Homo sapiens: one gene and its partners. The protein of the gene in region 1 purifies or fractionates together with the protein of each later gene. This does not show direct contact. Each region holds a gene or a part of one and is shown on either strand. Other genes may lie near its edges. The genes, in order: CA10, TOR1AIP1, KCTD15, WDHD1, MTERF4, PSMG1 and NSUN4.

Region 1 (4,052 bases):
AAATATAGCTGTGACAGGTATCCCACTAATGCTTTTTTTGGAGGCTAAGATCAGACCCTTTCTCAGCCTGTTCCCCTCGGTGATTGCCTGGCGAAATTCAGGGTAAGGGCTGGGGACAGAGAGGATGCTGGAGGAAATCCAGAGCCTTAATCAATGTTAACCCTTTATAAATCTTAAAGGTACTCAGATGGCTTGTCTGATTTGAAAATTATTAATGACACTGGGGAGAAGTAAGGAAAGGCTATTTTATAACTAGTCAAATATTCTGGAACAAGAGAGAGAGTTTGAAATAGACATGTAGAAGAGAAAGATGTAAAATATGGCCTTGTGAGATGCCACCCACTTCATATCTGGACATATGACTGATATAAACCTTTACAAGTCACTTGAGAATTTTCACTCCTAGATGCAGAATGGAATAATAGAAGTCCCACTAGAGGAGTTGGGGTGACCCCAGGGCACATTTTCTTGTCTGCCAGGTACACAACACATCTCACTGATGTATCACAGAGACAAATTTCTTAATAGGGTAGCCAAGCCCCACACAGAATGATTTCGGATAAGAGTCCCATTCCTTCCCTATGAGGAGAAAATTGGAAGCCAGACTGGGATTTGGAACAGAGTCCAGGGTGAGGGCAGAACTAGGGTTGTTTTCTCCTATCCAGAATCAGGTCTGGCTTAAAGGGAGGGGATTGACAGGGCTGAAGGAAGAGGCAGGAAACATGTCTCTCCACCCCAGTGCTGCTTAAATGTGGCTGCTCAAAGGGGCAATATCCTGCTCTCCTCTTCTGATGACTTCATGGGAAGTTGGCCGAGTCCCCACTTCTGCAGAAGAATGCAGGCAGAAGGGAGCACTACAAATGGGCTTTTCCTTGGGTGCTTAAGTGGCAGGTGTGAAGGGAAATGGGGTGGGTGCCTTCAATGGGAGGAGCCACTGAACTGGGGAATACTGCTGGTCCAGGGGCTTTCCCCTTTCCCTCCCAGCTTCCTCCCAACCCCAATTCCCTGCATCAACAAAGACAGTGCTCAAAAACCAGAACTCGTCCTAACACACTCAGGCACAGGTGTCCACAAGCCCAACCTCTTTCACCTCAACACCCTGAAATCCCGTTTGCTCTTAAAAGCACAGACAGGCCCAAGTAGACTGAGAGGTCTGAGCCAGCACATCCTTGCTACTGGGAATTAAAAAACACCGTGATGTAAAGAAAGTGGTATTTGTGACACTGTAGTGCTTTAACAAGAAAATTGGGGGGGTAGAGGAGGGTGTGTCAGCAGGTTTCAAAGCATCACAATCAGTCCTGATGTGTTTGGGTAAGGCATGGAGGACATATCTCTGATCCCTGCTGGTACTCTCCAGTCCCGCATCCTCCCGCAGTCTCTTGAAAGTGGTTAGATACCCGGGCAGGGCCCCGCGTCCATTTTGCCAGCCAGGAACCACCGAGTCTGGGAACTTTGAAAGCCAGGGGATGGGGGTGGTTGTTGCCAAGGCTCGGATTTCGGCGCCAGAGTTCTCAGCCAGGAAAGCAGTTGAAAATCAACACCCATCTGCCTCTTCTTTCTCATCCCCCACCACTTTTTCCTTCACCCTTCTAGGACTGCACACAGATCCTAACCACCCCCCCCCGCAAAACACACACATTCACACACCCTTGGGCTGAGAAGATTTTTGATTCTGAAGGCGGCAAACCCGCAGAACTCAAAGGGTCTCGCCACCCCTCTCTCTGCCCCGCGGCTATATACAATAAAACCCCATACACCCCAGACATCACAACATAATCCAAATCAGCCAGTGACTTCGGCGCGTCCCGTACCTGATATGCAGACGATGAAATTGGCTTGAAGAAGAAAAAGCACCTCCCAGACTATTTCCATCCTCTGATTCTCATTCCAAGTGCATCACTCGACGGGAAAACGGGGGGAAGGGGGGAGCCCGACACGGCACACACACATACACACTCGCACACACTTCCGAGCGAGTGCACACTCGCACTCCCACCCGACAGCCGGCCAGGGACAGTCACCCCCAAGATCAATATCGCAGTTTGAATTGTTCCGGCAAATCTCCCCTCGGGCTCGACGGATGTGCGCCCCAGATGTGCTGACACATGTCCGATGCCTCGCTGCCTTGGAGGTCTCCCCGCTCGCGTGTCTCTTCTCTTCGCACCAGCGGCGGAAACCGCACTAGCAGCGGCGGCGGCGGCGGCGGCGGCAGCAGCCACCTGAAGCCACCAACACTGGGCTCTTCCAGCAAAAACGAGACCCCGATTCGTCTGGCGCCCCAAGAAGACATAGACGATAGCCCCCCGCCGGGCTGCGCCGTGCAATTCCGGGCTCCCGGGAGCGCGTAGCTCGCTGGCTAAGCCCAGGCAGTCCGCGGCAAGTTGCCCTCGAAGTCCGCCCCCCTCACCGGGGCATGGTCGGAGGGTGGCTGCTGCGCTCCGGGGCAGTTCTTCTCCTGCTTCCGGGGGGCGGGGAAGGAGCAGACACAGCAGACACACAGAGAAAGAGAGGCAGGGATTATTGCCCGAAACCGCCAGCCGCCGGCAGCCTCCGCCGACCCTCCCTGCTCCCCAGGTCCGCGCGCAGCCTGCAGCCTCTCAGCCGGGTTCCGGCAGTGCGTCCAGGGCGCCGAGGGGAAGGGCTGGGCCCCGGGGACTGGGGCGCGGTGGGGGCACACAGACTCTCCAGGTCGCGCGCGCCCTTCCTGCTCCTCTGCTATTTTCCTGAACTCCCCAGAACCCCCAGTTGCCTGGCTTCCATCGCCCGCAACTAGCGCCGCTGTCGAGATTTTCCGCAATACAACTGCAGGGGTCGTTATTTCCTCGCCTACGGATCCCTACGCTTCCCAACTCAGAGAGGAGGAGGACAGGTGGGGGCGGGAGGGGGAGGAGGAGAAGGAGGCTTGGCCAGGTGAGCGTCCTCGCCGCCGCCGGGCGTCCCAGCGTCAGCTCCGCAGCCCGGCACCCGGGGGCGGAGGCAGGAGGCCCGGGCGGGGAGGTGAGGCTGAGCGCGGCCATGAGGAGGAGGAGGAGGAGGCTGGGTGTCACAGCTTCAGGCCACCTTGGCCGCCGCCTCGGCCCCAGTCCCTGGCAGCCGCCTCCGCACTCCGCCCCGCCCTGGCTGCCTCTGTTACCCTCCAGGATTTTCGAGTTTCTCTTCTTAAAAAGAACTTCGTGCTGCGGGTTCGGCGCGGGAGACCCAGGCAGGACTCATCCTGGGAGTGCTGTGCTGTGCTCTCCCTCCGCTGCGAAATATTGGAGATTTTTTTGCATAATTCATTCCCTGCCCTCTCCATTTCGTCCCTCTCATGCCCCCCACCCTTTACCCCTTTCCGTGCCAGTGCCAGAACACTACTTACCCCAGAGTTCTTTTCTCTGCAGGTTCCTAGACCAGGTGCAACTCTTGCCTGCAAGTCCCTGCCTCCCTCCTCCCGAAAAGGGGGAACACCGCCTTTCCAAGTCCGGGTGCCAGCAGCGGCTGCTGCCAACTGCGCCTTCGCCCAACTCCAGGAGGATCCGGGACTATTGGAAACCCGGGCTTTAGAGGAACGGGCTTCCCTTCTTGTCTTTCTTTTATTCTGCTTTTCTTTAGGGAAGCTCTAGTGCTTTGGAGGCTTTTGCTGGGCTCCAGGATACTTTCCGCCAACGACACTCAGCAGCTTCCACTGAAGGAGATTTCCCCACCAAACCCGCGCGCGCACACACACACACACCCAGCGCGCGGCTCTCCAGGGCCCCAGGGGAAAGTAGGGGCGGCGCGAGCACCACCCACCCACCCAGGCCGAGGCCAGGGGCAGCCAGTCCGCAGAAGGTCTCGTGGGGAGGCGGGCTGTCTATAACCTAGGAAAGACTTGCACCCGGTTGCAGTGTGGATGCAGGGGAATTGAAGAAAACCCTGTGCTCAGAACTGCTTGCCTAAGAGGGCTGGGAACGAAAGGGGAAAGACAAAATCTCAACAGATTTGTCTGCTTCCATCGCTGCAGTGGTGGTTTGCGAAAGCTCAAACCTACCTCTTTGGGGTTATTGAAGAAGAGGAGGGAGCGTAGAGGGAAT
Region 2 (3,500 bases), on another chromosome or scaffold:
ATATGAATTAATTTAACCCCCACAACAATCCAGATGACAAGACTGAGGAACACAGAAGTTAAATAACTCTCTAAAGGCAAACAGCTAAAAAGTGAAGGAATGGAACCCAGAAATTCTAGCTAGACACTACCAGCGTGTTACAAATCTCCATTTCTGTATCAAGAATTCATAGGAAAAATGAGGAAGGGTGGGAAACACACAGAATACCAAATGCCCAACAACCAGCGTATAATGCCAGGCACGGTGGCCCACACCTATAATCTCAGCACTTTGGGAGGCTGAGGCAGGAGAATTGCTTAAGCCTGGGAGGTCGAGGCTGCAGTGAGCCATGATCGCATCACTGCACTCAAACCTGGGTGACAGAGAGAGATCCTGTCTCAAAAAAATAAAAACAAAAACCAAACCAGCTTATGTACTTATTTTTAAAGTGAAATGATGAGGTAAAGAATAGGAATTACAGGTCAGGCGTCGTGGCTCAGGCCTGTAATCTCAGCACTTTGGGAGGCAGAGGCAGGTGGATCACCTGAGGTCAGGAGTTTAAGACCAGCCTGGCCAACATGGTGAAATCTCATCTCTATTAAAAATACAAAAATTAGCCAGATGTGGTGGTGCGCACCTGTAATCCCACCTGCTTGGGGGGCTGAGGCAGGAGAATCACTTGAACCCAGGAGGCAGAGGCTGCAGTGAGCCGACATTGCGCCACTGCACTCCAGCATGGGTGACAGAGTGAGACTCTGCCTTAAAAAAAAAAAAAAAAAAAAAAAAGAATTGGAATTACAGAAATTTTAAGGAGGTGGTGAAGGGAAAGTGCAGGACTAAAGTATAAAATTACTCATTATTTACAGAGTTTACAAATTTGTTTAGCATTATCTTTTTTGGGGGGGAGGGTCTTGTTCAACATTATCTTAAGCCTCAAACTGGTATTTTTCTCTCTTTAGTCAACTCTTTCATTGAATAAACTTAAATTCACATAAACAATCAGAACTTGTTAATTAATAATTTGGTTTGAATTTGAAAATCCAGAGATAAAGCTAGTTATATAATTAAATGAAAACTTCCTAAAAGTAACACTCCAGATAGTGTTGTCAGTCCCAATGGCAATGTGATTAGTTTCTCTATAAAATTCAAAAAACAACAAGTAACTCTTCTTTTGAGCACAAAAATATCTTATTTTCCACAAATATCAAAAAAAGCTAAAAGTGATTTGTTTAGATATCATGACATAGTATTAATCGGATGAACACGAAATCAGTAATTTTAATAAATATTTAAAGAAAAATTCACGACTTTTTATAAAGTATTAATAAAAATTTGAAAGTTTTTTTTAAAAAGCAAATTCATGGAATACCAAAGATAGTTCTATGAGAAGAGTCATATGTATATAAAGCAATATTACCTCCAGATTCATCAGAATCCCTGGATCTGGCCTTAACAGTAGTGACACTGCTGTGAGAGCTGTCTTGATCATCTTCTTCAGTTTCTCCTAAAGAGAAGTAAACAATATACTAATATAGTCTATTTTAATGCTCAGAAGATCTGAATTTAAAAAAACCAAGCAAATAATTTAACATTAAAAGAAGCCTTTTAAGTTATCAGATATAGAACTACTGTTTGTTTATCATGCTTATTATTTTGAATCCCAAAGTTCCAAAGGAACTAAAATTTATCTCAATTTGTGTCCTCTGGGGCACATAATACTTTCCTAAACAAATATTCAGAGTAATATCTAAAAAACTATAAGGCTTTAATGTAGAGTCAAAAATGAACAGATGAGCGTTAAACAGTGGAAAAAGTTTATGGGGAGGAAAACTACATATAATTAGTGTGTAGTTAAATTCAGATGTGTATTTGTGTGTGTGTGTTGGTGGTAGAGGGGTAGTGTACACACACCTGCACACAAACATTCTATTATGCAGGTGACCACCCTCAGATTATGCTGAGCTTCAACAAAAACTAAATTTTATTCCTGTACTTTTCAAACATAAACTGGTTATGAGAATTTGGAAAACTGATTACTTTAATACCATAATAGAAAATATTATCTTTGCTTAAAATGAACCCAAATAGACAAAAGATGCTTAAAATGTAAGGCTGTCATCACTCATTCTATCTGTCCTATTATTTCTGCCCAGTTAACAGTTCAGATAAGCATGAATTTTTTTTCTTGAAGAAAAACACATTATTTTCTGTTCTAACTTCTTTTTGTTTTTTTTTTTTTTAAGAGATGGGCTCTCACTAGGTTGCCCAGGCTGGAGTGCAGTGGCCATTCACAGTTGCAATCCCACTACTGATCAGCACGGGAGTTTTGACCTGGTCCGTTTCTGAACTGAATGGATTCACCCCTCTTTAGGCAACATGGTGGTCCCCCGCTCCCGGGAGGTCACCATATTGAAGCCAAACTTAGTGCAGACACCTGATCGGCATAGTGCACTACAGACAGCCCAGAACTCCTGGACTTAAGTGATCTTCCTGCCTCAGCCTCCCGAGTAGCTGAGACTACAGGCATGTGCCACAGTCCCCGGCTCTGTTCCCACTTCTTAAATATCTATCAGAATGGCTTCTAATGTAAAGAAAAAGACTTAAAGTATATATTATATGATATTTACAAGTAAAATACCTTCTTCAGAGAAATTGACCTTCTGTTGGACACTGGTGGCTTCTAGAAGAAAAAAGCATACATCAAATATTAAACATATAACATCAAAAGTTAAAGCTTAGGAATAAACAAAAGCTTAGGAAAAAAGTTAAAGCTTAGGAATAAATAAAAGAGCATCTCGTTTAGGAAAATGAACATGAGGACACATTAAATAAATTCTTTTTCTGTTAAATCACTAAGAATTGGCCGGGTGCAGTGGCTCACGCCTATAATCCCGGCACTTTGGGAGGCCGAGGTGGGTGGATCACTTGAGGTCAGGAGTTTGAGACCAGCCTGGTCAACATGGTGAAACCCTGTCTCCACTAAAAATACAAAAATCAGCCAGGAGTGGTGGTGTGTGCCTGTAATCCCAGCTACTCGGGAGGCTGAGGCAGGAGAATAGTTTGAACCTGGGAAGCAGAGGTTGCAGTGAGCCGAGATCGCGCCACTGTATACCAGCCTGGGCGACAGAGCAAGACTCTGTCTCAAACAGAAAAAGGAAATGAAGTGTTTAATTTTCCTTCAGTCACAGGTCTATTTTTACTCTAAAATGTAACCTTTGTATGCAAAAAAAACATTAAATTCTACATTGACAAATATTCTAGTGTGTATAGGTTTGCTATATTCTCATTCTCTTATTTGCCAAATCCCCTATACTCCCTTTAAAAACCAACTACACTAACTGGACTGATAACCCAGTTCTTTCGAGCATTGGTGTATCCAAAGAGGAAGAAAGGTAAAGAAACTTCTAGTTCTGGCGGGTCCATGTATGTCACTGTTTTCCAGTGCAAAAGAGAATTTGAACAAAAATAAACAAGCAAAACACATCAAATAAACTTGGAACATAGTATTTTTACATGGGCTA
Region 3 (3,500 bases), on another chromosome or scaffold:
CGCCTCTTCAATGGCACTGAACCCATCGTCCTGGACAGTTTGAAGCAACATTATTTCATTGACCGGGATGGGGAGATTTTCCGCTACGTCCTGAGCTTCCTGCGGACGTCCAAGCTGCTGCTTCCGGATGACTTTAAGGTAAGTCCATGGCTGGTGGCCCCCCTGCACTGCCTGTGTGATGGCATTACACAGGGGACGCTGTGACTTAATAAGTGGACCCCTGGTTGTCATGGTAACCATAAAAAGTTAAACGATGAAGCCGAGGGCTAAATCAGTTTTTCTAAACTAATTTTGTTTTCTCACATTTTTAGCTTATTTATCAGGGTATATAACAACAATCAAGCTGCAGAACGTATCCCAGCTGAACATTTGTCGTGTTTAAGGATGGGCGCGTGCCAGCGTTATAGTAGTTAGAGGTTCATAAATCTGTTCCATCGGCTGGGTGCAGTGGTTCATGCCTGTAATCCCAGCACTTTGGGAGGCCAAGGTGGGTGGATCACTTGAGGTCAGGAGTTCAAGACCAACTTGGCCAACTTGATGAAACCCCATCTCTACTGAAAATGCAAAAATTAGGCCTGGAGCGGTGGCTCACGCCTGTAATCCCAGCACTTTGGGAGGCCGAGGCGGGTGGATCACCAGGTCAGGAGTTTGAGACCAGCCTGGCCAAGATGGTGAAACACCGTCTCTGCTAAAAATAGAAAAATTAGCCAGGCGTGGTGGCAGGCCTGTAATCCCAGCTACTCGGGAGGCTGAGACAGGAGAACCACTTGAACCCAGGAGGCAGAGGTTACAGTGGGCCGAGATTGCGCCACTGCACTCTAGCCTGGGCGACAGAGCAAGACTCCGTCTCAAAAAAGAGAAAGAAAAGGACGGCTGTAATTAGACTTCAAAAAATAAAGTATAAAAAGAAAAATGCAAAAATTAGCCGGGCATGGTGACAGGTGCCTGTAATACCAGCCACTTGGGAAGCTGAGGCAGGAGAATCTCTTGAACCCAGGAGGTGGAGGCGGAGGTTGCAGTGAGCCGAGATCACGTCACTGCACTCCAGCCTGGATGACGGAGCAAGACTCTGTCTCAAAAAAAAAAAAAAATCTGTTCTGTGTTGGGCAATTTGCAGGGAGAAAAGCCCTGATGACCAAACAGATACCCTTTAAACAAAAGGTTAACCCCCAGGTCTCCGGGTGAGCCCGTCAGGGCAGGTGACCTGGTTCCCTGGGTCATGCCTCAGTGCTGAGCCCCTCCCACATGTCAGGGACTCTGGGAGGAAGGAAACTCAGGCCTGGGGTACACTGGCATGTATTAATACTAGCAAATGTCTGTCCTTCCTTCCTTCATTCCTTCCTCTATCCAGAGGACCAGTAGCCCTGGGGCCTTGTCTTTCATCCAGCTCAGTTACTGAGTGCCAGCCTCTGAATTCAGGCTGAAAACAGTGAAACACACACACTAGGACCTGCCCCACAACACTTAACAGTCTAGCGGGCAGACAGATACTGAACTTGAAGTCCATGTGACCTGGGCTGGGCGGGTTTGAAAGAAATGATGTTCATCTGGGTGGTGAAGGCAGAACGGGGCCAAACAGGTGTGAGGGCCTTGGTGCAGGGGATGGGGGTGGCAGATGGCTTGATGCATTCCAGAACTGGAAAGAAGGTGTCAAGCCTGGAGCTTTATGGACTGGGAGGGGAAGGTCAGGAAAGGAGGCTGCTGTTTGATGTCAGGACCTTGGTGGGTGGCCCAGTGCCTGGCATTTAACTCTGAATGCAGTGGAAGGGGTGTGTGCAGGGGAAGGGCAGTCAGATCTGCAAATTGGGAAGATCTCTCTGGCTGTTGGGTGGGGAAGAAGGCAGAGAGGGGTGGGGGTGGGTGCAGTGAGGCAATTATGGATGAGGCCCCTTCCCCAGGCCAAGGGAGGCTGGGTGGAGGCTTTGGATGGACCAGGATGGAGATAGAGAAGATGGAGCAAGGTGGCACATCAGACTTCTGTTTAGTACAGGCACAGTGGCTCACTTGGTCATCCCAGCACTTTGGGAGGCCGAATGGGGAGGATCCTTTGAGGCCTGGAGTTCAAGACCAGCCTGGACAACATAGCAAGATGCTGTCTATACAAATTTGTTTTTTAATTAAAAAAGGCCGGGTGCGGTGGCTCACACCTGTAATTCTAGCGCTTTGGGAGGCCGATTTAGGTGGATCACCTGAGGTCAGGAGTTCGAGACCAGCCTGACCAATATGGTGAAACCCCATCTCTCTTAAAAATACAAAAATGAGCCGGGCGTGGTGGTGTGCACCTGTAGTCCCAGCTACTCGGGAGACTGAGACAGGAGAATTGCTTGAACCCAGGAGGTGGATGTTGCAGTGAGCTGAGGTCACACCACTGCACTCCAGCCTGGGCAACAGAGCAAGGTTTCATAAGTAAATAAATAAACTTTACTTTTAAAGTTTTTTAAGAGTAATTTATTTACTTTTCATAAGTAAATAAATAAACAAGCAAGCAAGCTGCAAAAGCACGTGGCTGTGGTAGTGTAAAGGGCCTCTTGCAGGTGCCCCGGGACTTGTGGCTTGAATTCTGAGTTGGTAAGTTGAGGCCCGGGGTGGACCAGGCTGTGGGAGTGGGGTTTCTGCCCCTGCATGGGAGAGCTGGTGGGGCATCAGATGGAGAAATCCTGGGCCATGACAAAAGATGGGGTTGTCTGTCATGCAGTTGTCATTTAAAATCTCAGGAGAATGGCCAGGAGAGGTGGCTCACACCTGTAATCCCAGTGCTTTGGGAGGCCAAGCAGGAGGATCATTTGATCCCAGGAATTCCAGACCAGCCTGGACCTTGTGTCTACAAATAATTATTATTGTTATTATTATTATTATCCTGGCATGATGGCTCATGCCTGTAGTCTCAGCTGCTCGGGAGGCTGAGTCAGGAGGATCCCTTGAGCCTGGGAGTTCAAGGCTGCAGTGAGCTATGATCACATCACTGCACTCCAGTCTGGGCTACAGAATGAGACCCTGTCTAAAGAAAATAAAATAAAAATCTCAGGAGCAAGTGAGAGTGGAGAGAGCAGAGGCCCAGGATAGAGCCCTGAGGAGCCCTTGCATGGGGCAGGAGAGGCAGGATGGGCCACTGACCCATGACAGGCCCAGAGGTCAGGGTTAGAATCTAGGCCTCCCTCCAGGCGGCCAGCAGGTGGAAGGGACTTAGGGCCTGTAGGTCAGGGGGCTGGGCTTCCTTGCCTCTTCCTCAGGCATGAGTCATGGGGACCTATGGGACCTTGGCCATTCCCAGTGGGGTGGGTGTGTGTGAGCGTGTATAGTGTGCATATGTGGCCCAGGGCATGGGGCCAGTATCAGCGCCTGAGGGACAGTCTGTGCGAGGCTGCTTAGCCCAGAAGGGGGCTGCGTGGCAGGGGGCGGGCTTCCCCTCCCTGGACACTTTATCACACTCTGCCTGTTTGGGCAGGGGCTGGACCAGGCACTTGGCACATCTTGCATCCTTTGATCCTCACTTTCATTCT
Region 4 (3,500 bases), on another chromosome or scaffold:
AATAAAATCTTATTTTATATTTTGGCATATACAGTATTTGTTTACATGTCAGTCCCTATACTCCCATCCCATCCCCAGACTACAAGGCATTTGAAATAAGGACTGGGTCTTATTGTGTAAATATAAATACAATTCTCATAAATACATTTACTAATTATTCTTATCTGTTCAGTGAGTTTGCTGCTTGGTAGAATTTATAGGTGCATATTAAAAGTTTACCTTTTTAGTAATTGAGTTTTTCTAAATCATTCACTTTTACTTTATAATTTGTATTAATTTGTTCAAGGTATCTAGCAGAGTGGAAAAGGATTATAATGATCTTTTTGATGGAGATGATATGAGTAATGCTGGTGATTTTCTAAATGACAATGCAGTTGAGATCCCTTCTTTTTCAAAAGGGATTATAAATGATGATGAGGATGATGAAGACCTCATGATGGCTTCAGGTCGTCCTAGACAGCGAAGTCACATCCTAGAAGATGATGAAAACTCAGTTGGTAAGAATTTGACTTTGTGCATGTGATTACCCTGTTGATTAATATTTTAGATTTTTTATTAACACTATTAAAGTCATTATTGAATTTGTAGAATGTAGCTAAGTGGTGCTTAGAGGAAATTTTATAGCATTAAATGACTTTGTTAAAAAAGGTTTCAAATCTATAATCCAAGCTTCTGCTATGGCAGACTAGAAAAAGAGAAAACTAAACCCCAAGCAAATGGAAGGAAATAATACAGAGCAAAATTCAATAAAATTGACAACAGAAAACCTATAGAGAAAGTCAATGAGACCAAAAGCTGGTTCTTTGACAAGATCAATAAGGCCGGGCACGGTGGCTCACGTCTATAATCCCAGCACTTTGGGAGGCTGAAATGGGCAGATCACTTGAGGTCAGGAGTTCAAGACCAGCCTGGCCAACATGGTAAAACCCTGTCTCTACAAAAATACAAAAATTAGCTGGGTGTGGTGGCACGTGCCTGTAATCCCAGCTACTCAGGAGACTGAGGCAGGAAACTCACTTGAACCCAGGAGGTGGAGGTTGCAGTGAGCCGAGATCGCGTCAACTGCATGCCAGCATGGGCAACAGAGCAAGACTCCATCTCCAAAGAAAAGAAAAGATCAATAAAATTAATAAATATCTATCGTGGTTGATCAATAAAGAGAAGACACAAATTACTAACATAGAGAATGAAAGAGAGGTGGGCCATCACTATAGATCTGTAGATTTGTGCTATCCAATATATAGTAGCCACTAGCCACATGTAGCTGTTGAGCACTTGAAATGTGGTTAGTTCAAACTGAGATATGTTATGAGTGCAACCGGATTTTTTTTTTTTTTTTGAGGCGGAGTCTCACTCTGTCACCCAGGCTGGAGTGCGGTGGTGTGATTTTGGCTCACTGCAACCTCCGCCTCCTGGATTCAAGTGATTCTTGTGCCTCAGCCTCCTGAGTAGCTGGGATTACAGGCATGCGCCACCACGCCTGGCTAATTTTTGTATTTTTAGTAGAGATGGGGTTTCACCATGGAGTGCAACCAGATTTTGAAGACAATATGAAAAAAAGAATGTAAAAATCTTGGGAAATTTTTTATATTGAGTACATGTTGAAATGATAATATGTATTTTAAATGCACTATATTATTAAGATTATGGCTGTTTCTTTTTACTCTTTAAACTTTAGAAATATTAGAAAATTTAAAATTACAGCTGTAACTCACATTATATGTCTGTATGGCAGTGCTACTATTAATATCAAAGGCATAATGGCAATATTATGAATAACTTTGTGCCCATAAATTTAACAACTTAAATGAAATAGACGAATTTTCTGAAAGACACAAAGTACCACTGCTAACTCAAGAAGTAATAGATAACCTGAATAGTATTGTATCTATTAAAGAAATTGAGATTGTAATTTAAAATCTTCAAATAGAGTGCTTATTGTAACAACTTACATGCTACAATAACACTTGAACATTATCAAGTAAAATGAAGAAATTGAGATTGTAATTGAAAATCTTCAAATAGAGTGCTTATTGTAACAACTTACATGCTACAATAACACTTGAACATTATCAAGTAAAATGCCAATGTGCAGTGCTATGTTGTGCTTTTTAAAGTCATATAGAGTTTATAGAACAGCAGTCCTCAAATGTTTTGGTCTCAGTAGCCTTTATACTCTAAAAAATTTTGAGGACCCTTCCGAGAGCATTTATTTATACAGAGTTACGGCTATCGTCATTTACATATTAGAAATTAAAATTCAGAAATTTAAAAATATTTATTCACTTAAAAATAACATTAATAAACTCATGTAAACATGAATAGTACTTTTTTATGAAAAACAAAAAAAATTAGTGAGAAGAGTGGCATTGCAATCTTTGTAATGTCTATCATAGAGGATAGCTGGATTCTCTCATCTACTTTTCTGGATTAAGTCTATTGCTATACATTGTTTTTGTTTGAAGTGTATAAAGAAAATTTGGCCTCACATAAATATGTAATTTGAAAAGGGAGAAGTATTTTAAGAAATCTTTTAATAGCACATTCAATTAATTGTGGATATTCTTTGATGTTGCACCAAGACTCAGAAGATGATCGTTTCCTAAAGATTACTTGCAAAGTGTAATCTGAAAACTTCAGTGAACTCTTACGGCTCTGTTATGTTAAGATTCATTGGTCTGGCTGGGAATGGTGGCTCTCACCTGTAATCCCAGCACTTTGGGAGGCCCAGGCAGGAGGATTGCTTGAGGCCAGGAGTTCAAGACCAGCCAGGGCAACATAGTGAGACCTCCTCTCTACAAAAAAACTTTAAAAATTAGCCAGGTGTGGTGACGTGTGCCTGTAATCCCACCTACTTGGGAGGCTGAGGTAGGAGGATCTCTTGAGCCCGAGAGGTCGAGGCTGCAGTGAGCCATGATTGCAACAGTGGGCTCCAGGCAGGGTAACAGAACGAGACCCTGTCTCAGAAAAAAACAAAATAAAATCAAAAAATTCATTGGTCTGACTTGAATGTTGAATGGATTTTTTAAAATCATGTTTAATTTTGTAACATATGAATTGATAATATTGGTTCACTGAAGTTTATAGATCCTCTTTATACTGACACTTTTTATTATCTAATATAAATTATTTGTTTTTGTTTTTAATTAATTATATGTTGTTTTTAATTAATTAATTTTTGTTTTTAGAGATAGCATCTTGCTCTGTCACCTAGGCTGGAGTGCAGTGGTATCATCACACCTCACTGTAACCTTGAACTCCTGGGCTTAAGCAGTTCTCCCACTCAGCCTTCCGGGTAGCTAGGACTACAGATGCATGCCACCATGCCCATCTAATTTTTTATTTTTTGTAGAGATGGAATCTTGCTTTGTTGCCCAGGCTGGTCTTGAAATCCTGGCCTCAAGTGATATTCCCTCCCCAGCCTCCCAAAGTGCTGCAATTACAAGCGTGAGTCACAGCACCTGGCTGTAAATTATATCTGCTAGTGTTGTTACCAATCT
Region 5 (4,059 bases), on another chromosome or scaffold:
ACACACACAGGCTCTGGATTCAGACCCAAGAGAATAAATTCTGAAATGATGTCCAGCAACTGTTGAAGACTGGCACCTCGCCGTACACTGAGCAATTCATTAATATGGGCATTGCTGAAACCCATGTCCAGGAGGGAACTCATGACCCTCTCTAGCTCCAAGGACCCTTGTACCACAGGAGTCCCCTGCTTCTCAAGGAGGCACTGAACAAGATTCCTCCTGCACTCTGGTTCCTGCACATAGTTATTGGATCTAACACAAGATAACTCCTCAATGACCCCTCCATTGGAGGCTGTAGTCAGTTTGCGCAACAAAGAAGCTGTCGTCCTTCTCTGTTCTCCAAGATGAGGAGTCTGCCTAGCCATACAGGCCCAGGTGAGGGGGATCAGGCGGTGCCAATCAAGGACCTGTAAGACACAGGACCAAAAGACAATTAATTCCTCACTATTCCAGTGTAATGGACACCATAAGACTTCTGAGCCAGAGTACTTACTGCCTTGGTTCCACACAAACATACAATTTTTATAAGCAATCTGCAAAATCCTATCTGAACTTAAGCCTACAGAGAAGGAAGCTCACAAAGAACAGGGTATTTCAAGGCCACAGAGATGGGAGTCAAGCAGGTACAATATTGTTAGCTTTTGCAGCTTTAAGGATGGGAGCAGGGACATGGAGGAAGAGGGAAAAACTATTTCTAGGCCACCTGGTCATGTGTGCCAGAAAAGTCTGGACCTCAGACTACTTTCCAGATTCATGTTCTTAAATTCATTCCACGAGAAGAATCTTGTGGGATACAGAGTTGGCCCTTGAACAACAAGGGTTTGAACTGCTTGGATCCACTTATATGTGGATTTTCTTCCGCCTCTGCCACCCTTGAGACACCAAGACCAAACTCTCCTTCACCTCCTCTTCAGCCTAAAGACCTTATGAGGATCTACTTCCTCTTAATGAATAGTAAATACATTTTCTCTTAGGATTTTCTTTTTGTTTTTTGAGACGGGGGTCTCACTCTGTTGCCCAGGCTGGAGTGCAGTGGTGCAATCATGGCTCACTGCAGCCTTGACTTCCCCAGGCTGAGGTAATCCTCCCACCTCAGCCTTCTGAGTAGCTGGGACTACAGGTGCACACTACACCCTGCTAATTTTTGTATTTTTTGTAGAGACGGGGTTTTGCCCTTATGATTTTCTGAATAACGTTTTCTTTTCTCTAGCTTACTTTAAGAATACAGAATGCAATATATATATATACAAGATATGTGTTAACTGTTTATGTTGTCGGTAAGGCTTCCAGTCATGAGTAGGCTATTAGTAGTTGAGTTTTGGAGGAGTCAAACGTTATACACTGATTTTCAACTGGTGTGGGGGCGGTCTGGTGCCCCTAACCCCTGTGTTGTTCAAGGGTCACAGTAATTAGTCAACTTGCATACACAATTCCAGTTGACCTCAAAAGTCTTCAGTGGTTCAGGCTGGTGCTTAACAAACTATGCACAAATCATCCAGGCACTCTAAGCCAGCAGTCTTCAACGTTTTTGGCACCAGGGACTGGCTTCATGGAAGACAATTTTTCCACAGACTGGTGAGGGGTTTCAGGATGATTCAAGCATATTACATTTGTTGTGCACTTTATTTCTGTTATTTTCACGTTGTAATATAAGATGAAATAATTATACAACTCACCATAATGTAGAATCACTGGGAGCCCTGAGCTTGTTTTCCTACAACCAGGAGGTGCCATCTGGGGTTGATGGGAAACAGTGACAGATCATCGGGCATCAGATTCTCATAAGGAGCGCAACCTGGACCCCTCAAAGGCGCAGTTCACAATAGGGTTCGCGCTCCAGTGAGAATCTAAGGCGGCTGGTCTGACAGGAGGCGGAGCTCAGGCGGTAATGCCAGCGAAGGGAGCGGCTGTAAATACAGTCTGGCTGGCTCACTTGCCGCTCACCTCCTGCTGTGCAGCCTGGTTCCTAATAGGCAAGGGACGGTACCGGGGGTTGGGGAACCCCTGCTCTAAAACCTTCACATCGGTCCCAACCCCTTCTCCAGCGTCATCGATTGTCGCCCTGGGGCCACCCTGCCAAGCCCAAGCTCTGGCTGCTCTCCAGCCTCCCCTGTCCAGATGCTCCCTCCGCCAGGAACACCTGGCAGTCGCTGGGGTCAGCGGGCGCGGCCCGTGGAACTGGGCTCAAGCCTAAAGACCTCTATGCTGATTCCGCTTCCTCTTAATGAAAAGTACATGTTATCTTCCTTGTGAAGTTCAAACTCTTGTTCAACAGTCAACTCAGGCCGGGCGCGGTGGCTCACGCCTGTAATCCCAGCACTTTGGGAGTTCGAGGCGGGTGGATCACCTGAGGCCAGAAGTTACAGACCAGACTGGCCAACACGGTGAAACCCCGTCTCTACTAAAAATACAAAAATTAGCCAGGCATGGTGGCGGGCGCCTGTAATCCCAGCTACTTGGGAGGCTGAAGCAGTAGAATTGCTTGAACCCGGGAGGCGGAGGTTGCAGTGAGCCGAGATCGCGCCATTGCACTCCAGCCTGGAGACAGAGCGAGACTTTGTCTCAAAAAAAAAAAATGTCAACTCTATATCCCACAATAATTGAGCAGAGCCACGGGTCCAGGATGCCAAAACCAGGTCAGCGTGCACGGACCTCCGGGAGGGCTCCACGACCTGGCCGTGAAACACTCGGCGGCCGCGGTTCCTCTGCGTCGCTGCCCGCCCGCCTGCGACCCGGAGAAGCCCGCGCGCCCAGCTCGAGCTTACCTGACGGCCGAACGCAGCCATAGCGCGGAGAAGATGGCAGCAGTTACGGCGCCGGAAGCAGCGGTCCTCCCCCGTCCTTCACTTCCGGCCCCCGGTCCGTCACCGACGCCGTTCCCAGCGCCAGCGCGGTGTGGTGGATCGTGATTCCGGCCCGGAGCTGTGCTGAGCGTTCACGGCCCCGCGGGGCTCAGGTGTCCCGGGGCCGCCCCTTAGAAAGCCGGAAGGCCGGAGTCGCGCCCGTCACCGTGCCGCCGCCTCTGCCGCGGCCTCAGCCTTCGGGGGCCTCGGTGTCCGGTTGTTCCCGTTGCACTGCCGTGTCCCGTTTCGCAGAGCTCTGGGCCGCGTGAACGAATGGGTCGTCCTGGCCCATACTTGTGTTTCAGATGACCTGAGAATTCCTCTCAAGAGTACAGGTAGAGGGGAACTGGTTCCTTGCTTCGGGAACTTCACCCGAGAGCGCAGAAATCCTTCCCGAGGCAGGAAAAATGGATTCCGTTCCATGTAGAGATATTTAAGATTTTATTGTGTAAAAATCTGTATTCAGCGTGAACACCGGGGCCACCTACGCACAAAAAGAAGTCTTTACCGCTTTTCTTTCTTTTTACTCTCAGCCAGTGGAAGATGAGAATTTGCCGTTTTTAAAAGACCCAAGTAAAATGACAGGAATTACGGCACATTTCCCTTTATAAGCAAGAGCCTTCCCAACTTCGAGGTCTGGTTCCCTCTTAGGATGAAATATAGTAAAGTTTTAGCCCAATGTGTATTCATTCTTAAATTTCCTCTCTCGACCTAAGAGCGTAGGCATCTTTCACAAGGTGATGCTTGTGAAGAATAAAAAGGTGTGCTTTCTCAGCTGCCTAAATCCTGCCACCAAAGCCTTAATTTATAAGCATTTCTTGTTTTATCTACTTCATTCTGGACTGACATAAAGGATTTGATTCTTGCATGGGCACACATTTACATATCTGCTTTGCGCCAGGCATGGAGTGGGGTGCCAAACAATTTATGTAAAACTGTCTTTTGACAAAAGGATTATGTCAAAGAAAAGGAAGGTTCTAATCCGTGTAGAAACTAAAGAATTGGTTGCTTTGGCAGAGTGCAGTGGCCCACGCCTGTAATCCCAGCACTGTGAGAGGCTGAGGTGGGGGGGATTGCCTGGGCTCAGGAGTTCAAGACCAACCTGAGCAACATAGGAAAATCCTGTCTCTACAAAAAATAAAAAATTAGCCGGGAGTAGTGGCGTGCACCTGTAGTCCCAGCTACTCAGGAGCCTGAAGTGGGAGGATCACTTGAG
Region 6 (4,264 bases), on another chromosome or scaffold:
AAGAAGGCAGGTTTGTTGACAGACTTTCTACCACATGCTCACGGGGTAATACTCTTCTGAAAAACTTTAGGCCAGCAGAACTTTATATAAATGAGTCCATAGTTACTTGCCATCATGTACTTACTATGTTCTACAACCACTAGGGGTACCTTACAGAGGAAGGGATCTTAACTGGGTTTCCTGAATGTTCTCATCACAACCTGTGAACACCCTAAAAATATAAAGGTCTATGTGTGTATTTGTAAATGTACATTGTCCTAGCTGCACTCTACACTGTTTTTACTTTAATCCACCAAGAGAATTAATACATGCAAGGACCTTAAAACTTAAGTACTTAAACATGTTGATAATTATTACTGTCTTTAGAGTTTTGTGTTCTCAAAGGAGTCTATTAACTCAAAAACATTAACATAAACCCGGATACCTCAACACACTAGAAACAGCTCCTTGAGTTTTAAGTTCCTGAAGCTAAAAACATTTTCTTTAAAGCTTTTCTCTGAGTTGGGGTCTTGCTTTGTTACCCAAGCTGGAGCACGATCAGTGGGAGGATCGTGGCTCACTGCAGCCTCAAAATCCTGGGCTCAAGCAATCCTCCCATCTCAGGCTCCTGAGTAGCCAGGACTACAGGCAAGCACCACCATGCCTGGCTTCATTTTTTTATTTTTTGTAGAGATACGGTCTCACTATGTTGCCCAGGCTGGTCTCAAATCCTGGCCTCAAGTGATCCTCCCGCCTCGGCCTCCCAAAGAGCTGGGGTTACAGATGTGAGCCACTGCACCCAGCCTAAATCTGATTTTTTCAGTTTATTAAAAAGATAGTGCAGACCAGGTGCTGTGGCTCACACCTGTAATCCCAGCTCTTTGGGAAGCTGAGGCAGGAGGATCACTTGAGGACAGGAGTGCAAGACCAGCCTGGGCAACACAGCAAGAAACCATCTCTACCAAAAACAAAACAAAAAAAAATGATGCAACAGGAACAGGAGAGAGATTTTACTCAGAAATACAATCACTCTACTGTGGCTTTTTAAAGTACTAAACATTTTAAATCTTTTATGATGGAAGAAAATAAGTATATTTCATTCTTTCAACAAAATGACTAAGTCTTCTGCATTTTCACTTACCTACTGCATTATTTCCTATAGCAATTATAAACTTGGAGCACGGATATTTTTCTAGCAAAGAAACTTCCAAAGATGTTTTTGTTTGTCTTCGAAGGAGCCGCACTTCCCTAACACAAGAAACAAGATGAAACTAAAGCAACTTCAATATAAACAGTATCATGGCAAAAGGGCACTATATGTATGATTTACAATAAATAAAATGCACGTTAGTTTTATAAAGAATATAACTAATATCCTCAGAAAACGATGGACTCGGACAATGATAACCAACAGATAAAACTATTGCATACGTGTTTACGGAGAACTCTAAAATAGTGATCAGGCTGTCCACCTGACCCAAGAACCAATCTTAGCATCCCTAAAAGTGAGACAGCTGGGGATAGCCTGCAATAAGAAACAGAAAGCACCACTTAGTAGAAGCATTCTTGCCGACAAAACTTTGAATGAGAATCTGACCAAGCCTCCAAATGAACATTCATTTTACAGGACATGCAGGTGATACAAACGTTAAGTGACACCACAACGAAGCTATCAGACAAATTCAGAGTGTGGGGGCACTGGACAAGACAATCAGTCCTGTCTCTTAGGAGGGGTAAGAGGAGGTTGCTCTAAATGAAGTGACACGTCTAAATGTAACCTGTGGACCCTGTTAGGATTCTCATTCACGCAGACCACTGTAAAATGTCATGTTTGAAAAAACTAGGTAAACGTGAGTGAGCATGGACTACAAAATGATACTGGAAAATTAGTATTAGTGTTGTTAGGGGTGATAATAGCATATGTAAGAAAATCCCTAAAACGTTTGAGATGTATTCTGAAAAATGTAGAGGTGAAAGGCCATGATGACTGGAATTCGCTTAGGAGTGGCGGGAGAGAAAATAAACGTGGCAAAATCTTCCTGTTGAATTTACCCGGTTGTGTAGGGGTCAGGGCTCACTTGACTATTTTCTCCCACTTTTTTGTGTTTGGAAACAATTTTTTTAAAGCGTGTTCATCGGCTACTGACACATCATGCTAATTGAAGTGTTGGGTGCAGGTTTAAAAAGTTTCGAGGGAATTGGTGTGTCCGTGAACAATCCACGACAAACGTGGTGGGGCCCGCGGGAGCGCTGCGGCCCAAGACAGTGTGACAAGCGGGAAGATCACGAGTCCGCAAGACACCAAGCCTCCAGAAATGCTCCAGAAACGCTCCAGAAAGCCTTTAAAGAACGGATTTGAACCCAGCCCTCCCACAGCGGCTTCACCCTGGACTCCACGAAACGCCAGCAGATCCACGCGAGAACCACACACACCTGGGGCTGGCGCCGCTGGACGCCGCGGCTTCACGGAGACCCAGGGCCCAAGCAGAGCCAAGGAGCGGCGGCAACCGCGGGGGCCACTCGGAAGACCGCGGAGCCCCGGCCTTAGGCGCCGTCGCGGCTGCCAGGCCCGCGCACCTTCCAGCTGCGGTGAGCGCGCTGCCCTTATCCCGGTGCCTCACCTCTTCCGCGCCAGCTGCAGACGCACCTCCCTGTCCTCGGGCGTCTCCCTCCGCCCCTCCTCCTCCTCCTCTTCGTCCTCAGTCCCAGCTCGGCACGGCGCCTTCACCACCTCTCCGAAGAACGTGGCCGCCATAGCCGCCCCGTGACCGGCTGGACACAACTGCAGCGCCGCGGGACCGCACGCCGGCTTGCGCGAGACCACGCTCCCTCACCGCGCGGGCAATAAGTCCCGCCCCGCACAGGCCACGCCCTCCGCGCACAGCCCAAGCTCGCGGCCACACCCCCACCGCGCGGGCGCTACGTCCCGCCCCGCACAGGGCTCGCTCCCAGGCACACCCTGAGCTCGCGGCCACGCCCTCTACACCGCCCGCCCGCGCTGTCATGCCCTGGGCCAGCAGTCCCCGCAGCTTTTTTGTTTTTAAATTACAGATTGGGGGAGGGGGTCTCGCTATGTTGCCCAGACTGGTCTCGAACTCCAGGACTCTAGCGATCGTCCTCCTTAGACCTCCCAAAGTGCTTGGATTACAGGCCTCAGCCACCGCGTCCGGCCCCCAAAGGCTTTCATTCGCAGCTTGAGCCCTGCGGGCGCCAGGAGGTGGGAGGACTGCGGGCTAGAGGGGCAGGGGGCGAGAGGAGGGCGGGGCCTCCGTTCGTGGCGGTAGCGGAACCAGGGGTGCAGGGGCGGAGCCAGCGCCGCTGGCCGTGGCGTCCGGGAGCTGTGGGGCCGTCCCCTCATCGTCCGTTTCCATTTTCCTTCTGCGTTAGGAGAGACTGGGGTAGCATTAGTGTACTGAGCACCCGCTCCAAATTTCGACTGCCCAGGTAGGTGGCGGCGCGGTGGTACTGAGGGCCCCCGTAGCCAGGCGCGCCCTCAGACAGCGGGCACGGGCGGACGCAAGGGCAGCAAGAAATACAGCGCTTCGTGGTGGTATAAAAACGAGACCTTTACTCTGGCAATAGGAATTCACATTTCAAAAGCTGATGATTGTCAAGGCGATTTAAAAAACATTTTTATGAGTGTAAAAAATAGTGTTTTAAAGTTGGCCATTTTCTAATACAAAATGTTTCTTTTTAAATAGCCTTTAATAAGCAGAATGTGTGATTGTTCTTTAATTGGTTCTCTTTAAAATGTGCTGGAAGACAAAGTTCGAGGAGCACTGTTTCAAGCAAGAGAAAAAGGGGACATAATTTAAATGAAAATGAAAATATGCAGTAATGCAATGAAAAAACCGTTTCCTAGATTTAGTTGTACCGAAATACATGACATCGCCTGCATTTTGTGACTTTGTCAGTAGTCACGAAGGTAAGTACTACTTTGGGGTCAGAGAGAGCCTGTTGAGATAAAATCTCAAAGCTGTTAGAAACATTTTAAGATGTGGAAAGATAATCAACAAAATCATTTACATAAAATTAGTACTTAGCAGATGTACACATCTGCAAAAATAAAGTGAGTTTGGAAGCAAAATTTGAACATTTAGCAATAAAATTAAGACGAAATTGCTAGCCAGTAAGAGCTTAGGAAACTGGATATCCTTAGTGAGATAGAATAAACAAGATCACCACAATGATGTTTTAAAACATTAGGACTCCTGGGTTAACTGGTCTATTATGATGATGGAACTGCAGAATAAAAAGGTTGTTTGGGCACCACTTGTCTTAGTCC
Region 7 (3,500 bases), on another chromosome or scaffold:
TATGCAGCATATAAGAGATACACCTAAAAGGAAATGACCTAAATATAAAGGGATGAGCAAAGGTATAACTGCAATCCTTTAAAAAAAAAAGCTGTAGGAGTTTCCCCAACCCAAAAAGGAGGAAATGTCTACAGACTCTTTCCTTACTCCTTCTCAGTGTCCTCAGTCATGGTCAGAACTTTTAGGAAGATGGCTGCAAGGTATACTTAGGACCGCTGGACTCCTGAGCCCCTAATGCAGAGAAACAGCAGAGCTATGTAATTTCAAGGGGACTATAAATCGATGGCAATATATCTGAATATCTTGGTTCTAATATATTTCTAATATTGTTTCAGTAGTGTTAACTGTGGAAAATGTTCATGTTGAGAGGCCAAGGCGGGCGGATGGCTTTAGCCCAGGATTTCGAGACCAGCCTGGGCAATATGACAAAACCCCGTCTCCACAAAAAATACCAAAAAAATTAGCTGGACATGCTGGCACATGCCTGTACTCCCAGCTACTTGGGAGGATGAGGCGGGAGAATTGCTTGAGCCCAGGAAGCAGAGGTTGCAGTGAGCCGAGATTGTGCCATTGCACTCCAGCCTGGGCGATGGGAGTGAAACCCTGTCTCAAAAATAAAAAAATATGTTGATCTCACTCAGTCACAGAAGAAAGAAAAGGAAGTTGTACTGTTGCACTACACTTAGGAAACATTTAGGGAGGGTAGTCAAACCACTCAACATCAGATATGGCACATGCATCTTCACATCAGGCACTGGCATGGATGTCAGTCATAAATAACCAGTCGTGCCAGGATAGTGCTCCCACTGAATCTCAGCCCTGGGCAAGTGTCTAACAAATATTATTTGTATTAATATCAATTTGTATAATATTGTATTATAAGGGAAGATAGAAACATGTTCAAATAAACATTGTATTATTTGAAATAAACTTGAGCTCACATAAAAAAGAAAGTTGTGACATGGGGGGGTTAGTGTCTTCCATGAACATGCAGAGCTCTGAGGTCCTGTCCCTTCTCCAGCTGATGGACAAGTGGAGCGGGAGAAGGATGGAGTTACCAAGAGTATGTAGAGCCCTGAAGTAGTATTCTTCTTCTTCTTCTTCTTTTTTTTTTTTGAGACGGAATCTCGCTGTCTCCCAGGCTGGAGTGCAGTGGCGCGATCTCGGCTCACTGCAGGCTCTGCCCCACAGGGTTTACGCCATTCTCCTGCCTCAGCCTCCCGAGTAGCTGGGATTCCAGGCGCCCGCCATCTCACCCGGCTAATTTTTTGTATTTTTAGTAGAGACGGGGTTTCACCGTGTTAGCCAGGATGGTCTCCATCTCCTGACCTCGTGATCCGCCCGCCTTGGCCTCCCAAAGTGCTGGGAATACAGGCGTGAGCCACCGCGCCCAGCCTTGAAGTAGCATTCTTCTTTGCATCTAAAGTGCTTAACACGGCTGGGCACGGTGGCTCACACCTGTAATCCTAATGCTTTGGGGGGCTGAGGCAGGAGGATCACTTGAGCTCAGGAATTCGAGACCAGCTTGGACAACATAGTGAGACCTCATCTCTACAAAAAGTTAAAAAATTAGCCAGGCATGGTGCACATGCCTGTAGTCTCAACTACTTGGGAGGCTGAGGTAGGAGGATCACTTAAGCCCAGAAAGTCAAGACTGCAGTGAGCCATGATTGCGCCACTGCATTCCAGCCTGGGCAACAGAGCAAGACCTTGTCTCAAATAAATAAATAAAAGTGCTTAACACTTGCCTACCACAGAGTATATTGTACACAACTAGTTTTTTTTTTTTTTTGAGACAAAGTCTCACTCTTGTTCCCCAGGCTGGAATGCAATGGCGCGATCTCAGCTCACTGCAACCTCTGCCTCCCGGGTTCAAGCAATTCTCCTGCCTCAGCCTCCCAAGTAGCTGGGATTACAGGTGCCTGCCACCACACCCGGCTAATTTTGTATTTTTAGTAGAGACGGGGTTTCACCACGTTGGCCAGGCTGGTCTCAAACTCCTGACCTCAGGTGATCCACCCACCTTGGCCTCCCAAAGTGCTGGGATTACAGTCGTTAGCCACCGTGCCCGGCCACAACTAGTTTTTCAACAAACAAGTTAACAAAGACATCTTCAAACATTAAAGCTGTCAAGTGAAATAGCAGGTCACTCATTCTATATTGTTCTAAAATAAGTAGCTAGGATCAATGAATGGAAATAATAATAATAATGGTAAGGATTGTGATGATTATACTACTACTGAATGTTTTCTATATTCCAGACATTGTGCCAAATGCATTCTTATTTAATTTTCACCTACGGGATAGGCACTATACTATTATCCTCATTTTACAGATGAAGAAGCTGAAGCTTAACTGAAAGTTAAGTAACTCACCGAAACTTCTCTGGCTGATAAGTAATGGAACCAGGACTAATCCAAGCAGTCTGACTCCAGAATCCTTGCCCTAACCCATATACCATGCTATCTACAGATTGCAGTAAGAGGCAGAACTTCCTAACATTGTAAGTGTTCAACAACAGAATCTCAGTGTGCACCCATCAACGGATGTGTTTAAGCATAGGCTGAATAATGATAATGGGTCCTGCTTGCCTAATCTTCACCGCCAGGTACTATACTAAGTGCTTTCCCTGGATACTCTCACTGAATCCTCACAATAATCCTAAGTGGTAGGATTACCCTGTTTCACAAACGAAGAGGTTGAAGTTCAGCAAGATCAACAGTTTGCCTAAGGTTAGTAAGTAGCACCCCTGTAATGTAGAAACTGGTTAGGCTGACAGGAGAGGTCATGCTCTCTCCATCATGTTCCACTGCTCTCATATCAAGAAAAATGAATAGGCCGGGCGCAGTGGCTCACGCCTATAATCCCAGCACTTTGGGAGGCTGAGGCTAATGGATCACTTGAGGTCAGGTGTTCGAGACCAGTCTGACCAACATGGTGAAACCCCGTCTCTACTAAAAAAATACAAAATTAGTCAGGCGTGGTGGCACACACCTGTAATCCCAGCTGCCTGGGAGGCTGAGGCAAGAGAATCGAACTTTGAACCCAGGCTTGAACCCAGGAGGCGGAGGCTGCAGTGAGCCAAGATTGCGCCACTGCACTCCAGCCTGGGCAACAAGAGCAAAACTGTCTCAAAAAAAAAAAAGAAAAAAATGAGTAGGGGATTCCTACACAGGCAGAAAGCAAGTCTCAAGCCTATCTAAGATTCCATAAGCCTTGGTCTTTCTTTCAGTTTCTTAGAGTGGTTGAGGCAGAATGGTGAGAACTAGACAGATTAGGTAAATCAGGTGACAACACAGAGACAACAGCTATATATTTTATATATTTTTAGAAATATGTGTTCTAAACAAATATTTTTAGAGTATGCCATTTAAAATAAAATAAATAACTTAAAAACATGAAGAGACTGGCCCAGCACAGTGGCTCACACCTATAATCCCAGCACTTTGGGAGGACAAGGTGGGAGGACTGCTCAAGCCCAGGAGTTCGAGGCCAGCCTG

Evidence for each region.
Region 2: the proteins of CA10 (region 1) and TOR1AIP1 purify together in Homo sapiens (affinity purification with mass spectrometry; 4 studies listed by BioGRID and IntAct, with this or other methods). This does not show direct contact.
Region 3: the proteins of CA10 (region 1) and KCTD15 purify together in Homo sapiens (affinity purification with mass spectrometry; 3 studies listed by BioGRID and IntAct, with this or other methods). This does not show direct contact.
Region 4: the proteins of CA10 (region 1) and WDHD1 purify together in Homo sapiens (affinity purification with mass spectrometry; 4 studies listed by BioGRID and IntAct, with this or other methods). This does not show direct contact.
Region 5: the proteins of CA10 (region 1) and MTERF4 purify together in Homo sapiens (affinity purification with mass spectrometry; 4 studies listed by BioGRID and IntAct, with this or other methods). This does not show direct contact.
Region 6: the proteins of CA10 (region 1) and PSMG1 purify together in Homo sapiens (affinity purification with mass spectrometry; 4 studies listed by BioGRID and IntAct, with this or other methods). This does not show direct contact.
Region 7: the proteins of CA10 (region 1) and NSUN4 purify together in Homo sapiens (affinity purification with mass spectrometry; 4 studies listed by BioGRID and IntAct, with this or other methods). This does not show direct contact.

The regions. Positions count from the first base shown.
Region 1 is NC_000017.11:52,155,915-52,159,966, forward strand, and holds the start of CA10 (carbonic anhydrase-related protein 10 precursor), read right to left. Parts: upstream 2,801-4,052; 5' UTR 1,873-2,800; coding exon 1,812-1,872; intron 1-1,811. UniProt on the Homo sapiens protein: Does not have a catalytic activity.
Region 2 is NC_000001.11:179,899,285-179,902,784, reverse strand, and holds part of TOR1AIP1 (torsin-1A-interacting protein 1), read right to left. Parts: intron 2,660-3,500; coding exon 2,618-2,659; intron 2,524-2,617; exon of another isoform or gene 2,221-2,523; intron 1,484-2,220; coding exon 1,397-1,483; intron 1-1,396. UniProt on the Homo sapiens protein: Required for nuclear membrane integrity. Induces TOR1A and TOR1B ATPase activity and is required for their location on the nuclear membrane. Binds to A- and B-type lamins. Possible role in membrane attachment and assembly of the nuclear lamina.
Region 3 is NC_000019.10:33,806,870-33,810,369, forward strand, and holds part of KCTD15 (BTB/POZ domain-containing protein KCTD15), read left to right. Parts: coding exon 1-138; intron 139-3,500. UniProt on the Homo sapiens protein: During embryonic development, it is involved in neural crest formation. Inhibits AP2 transcriptional activity by interaction with its activation domain.
Region 4 is NC_000014.9:54,992,600-54,996,099, reverse strand, and holds part of WDHD1 (WD repeat and HMG-box DNA-binding protein 1), read left to right. Parts: intron 1-286; coding exon 287-497; intron 498-3,500. UniProt on the Homo sapiens protein: Core replisome component that acts as a replication initiation factor. Binds directly to the CMG complex and functions as a hub to recruit additional proteins to the replication fork.
Region 5 is NC_000002.12:241,099,488-241,103,546, forward strand, and holds the start of MTERF4 (transcription termination factor 4, mitochondrial), read right to left. Parts: upstream 2,801-4,059; 5' UTR 2,787-2,800; coding exon 2,766-2,786; intron 408-2,765; coding exon 1-407. UniProt on the Homo sapiens protein: Regulator of mitochondrial ribosome biogenesis and translation. Binds to mitochondrial ribosomal RNAs 16S, 12S and 7S and targets NSUN4 RNA methyltransferase to the mitochondrial large ribosomal subunit (39S).
Region 6 is NC_000021.9:39,180,652-39,184,915, forward strand, and holds the start of PSMG1 (proteasome assembly chaperone 1), read right to left. Parts: upstream 2,801-4,264; 5' UTR 2,735-2,800; coding exon 2,601-2,734; exon of another isoform or gene 2,413-2,600; intron 1,251-2,412; exon of another isoform or gene 1,228-1,250; coding exon 1,121-1,227; intron 1-1,120. UniProt on the Homo sapiens protein: Chaperone protein which promotes assembly of the 20S proteasome as part of a heterodimer with PSMG2.
Region 7 is NC_000001.11:46,354,307-46,357,806, reverse strand, and holds part of NSUN4 (5-cytosine rRNA methyltransferase NSUN4), read right to left. Parts: intron 232-3,500; exon of another isoform or gene 148-231; intron 1-147. UniProt on the Homo sapiens protein: Mitochondrial RNA cytosine C(5)-methyltransferase that methylates cytosine to 5-methylcytosine (m5C) in various RNAs, such as rRNAs, mRNAs and some long non-coding RNAs (lncRNAs).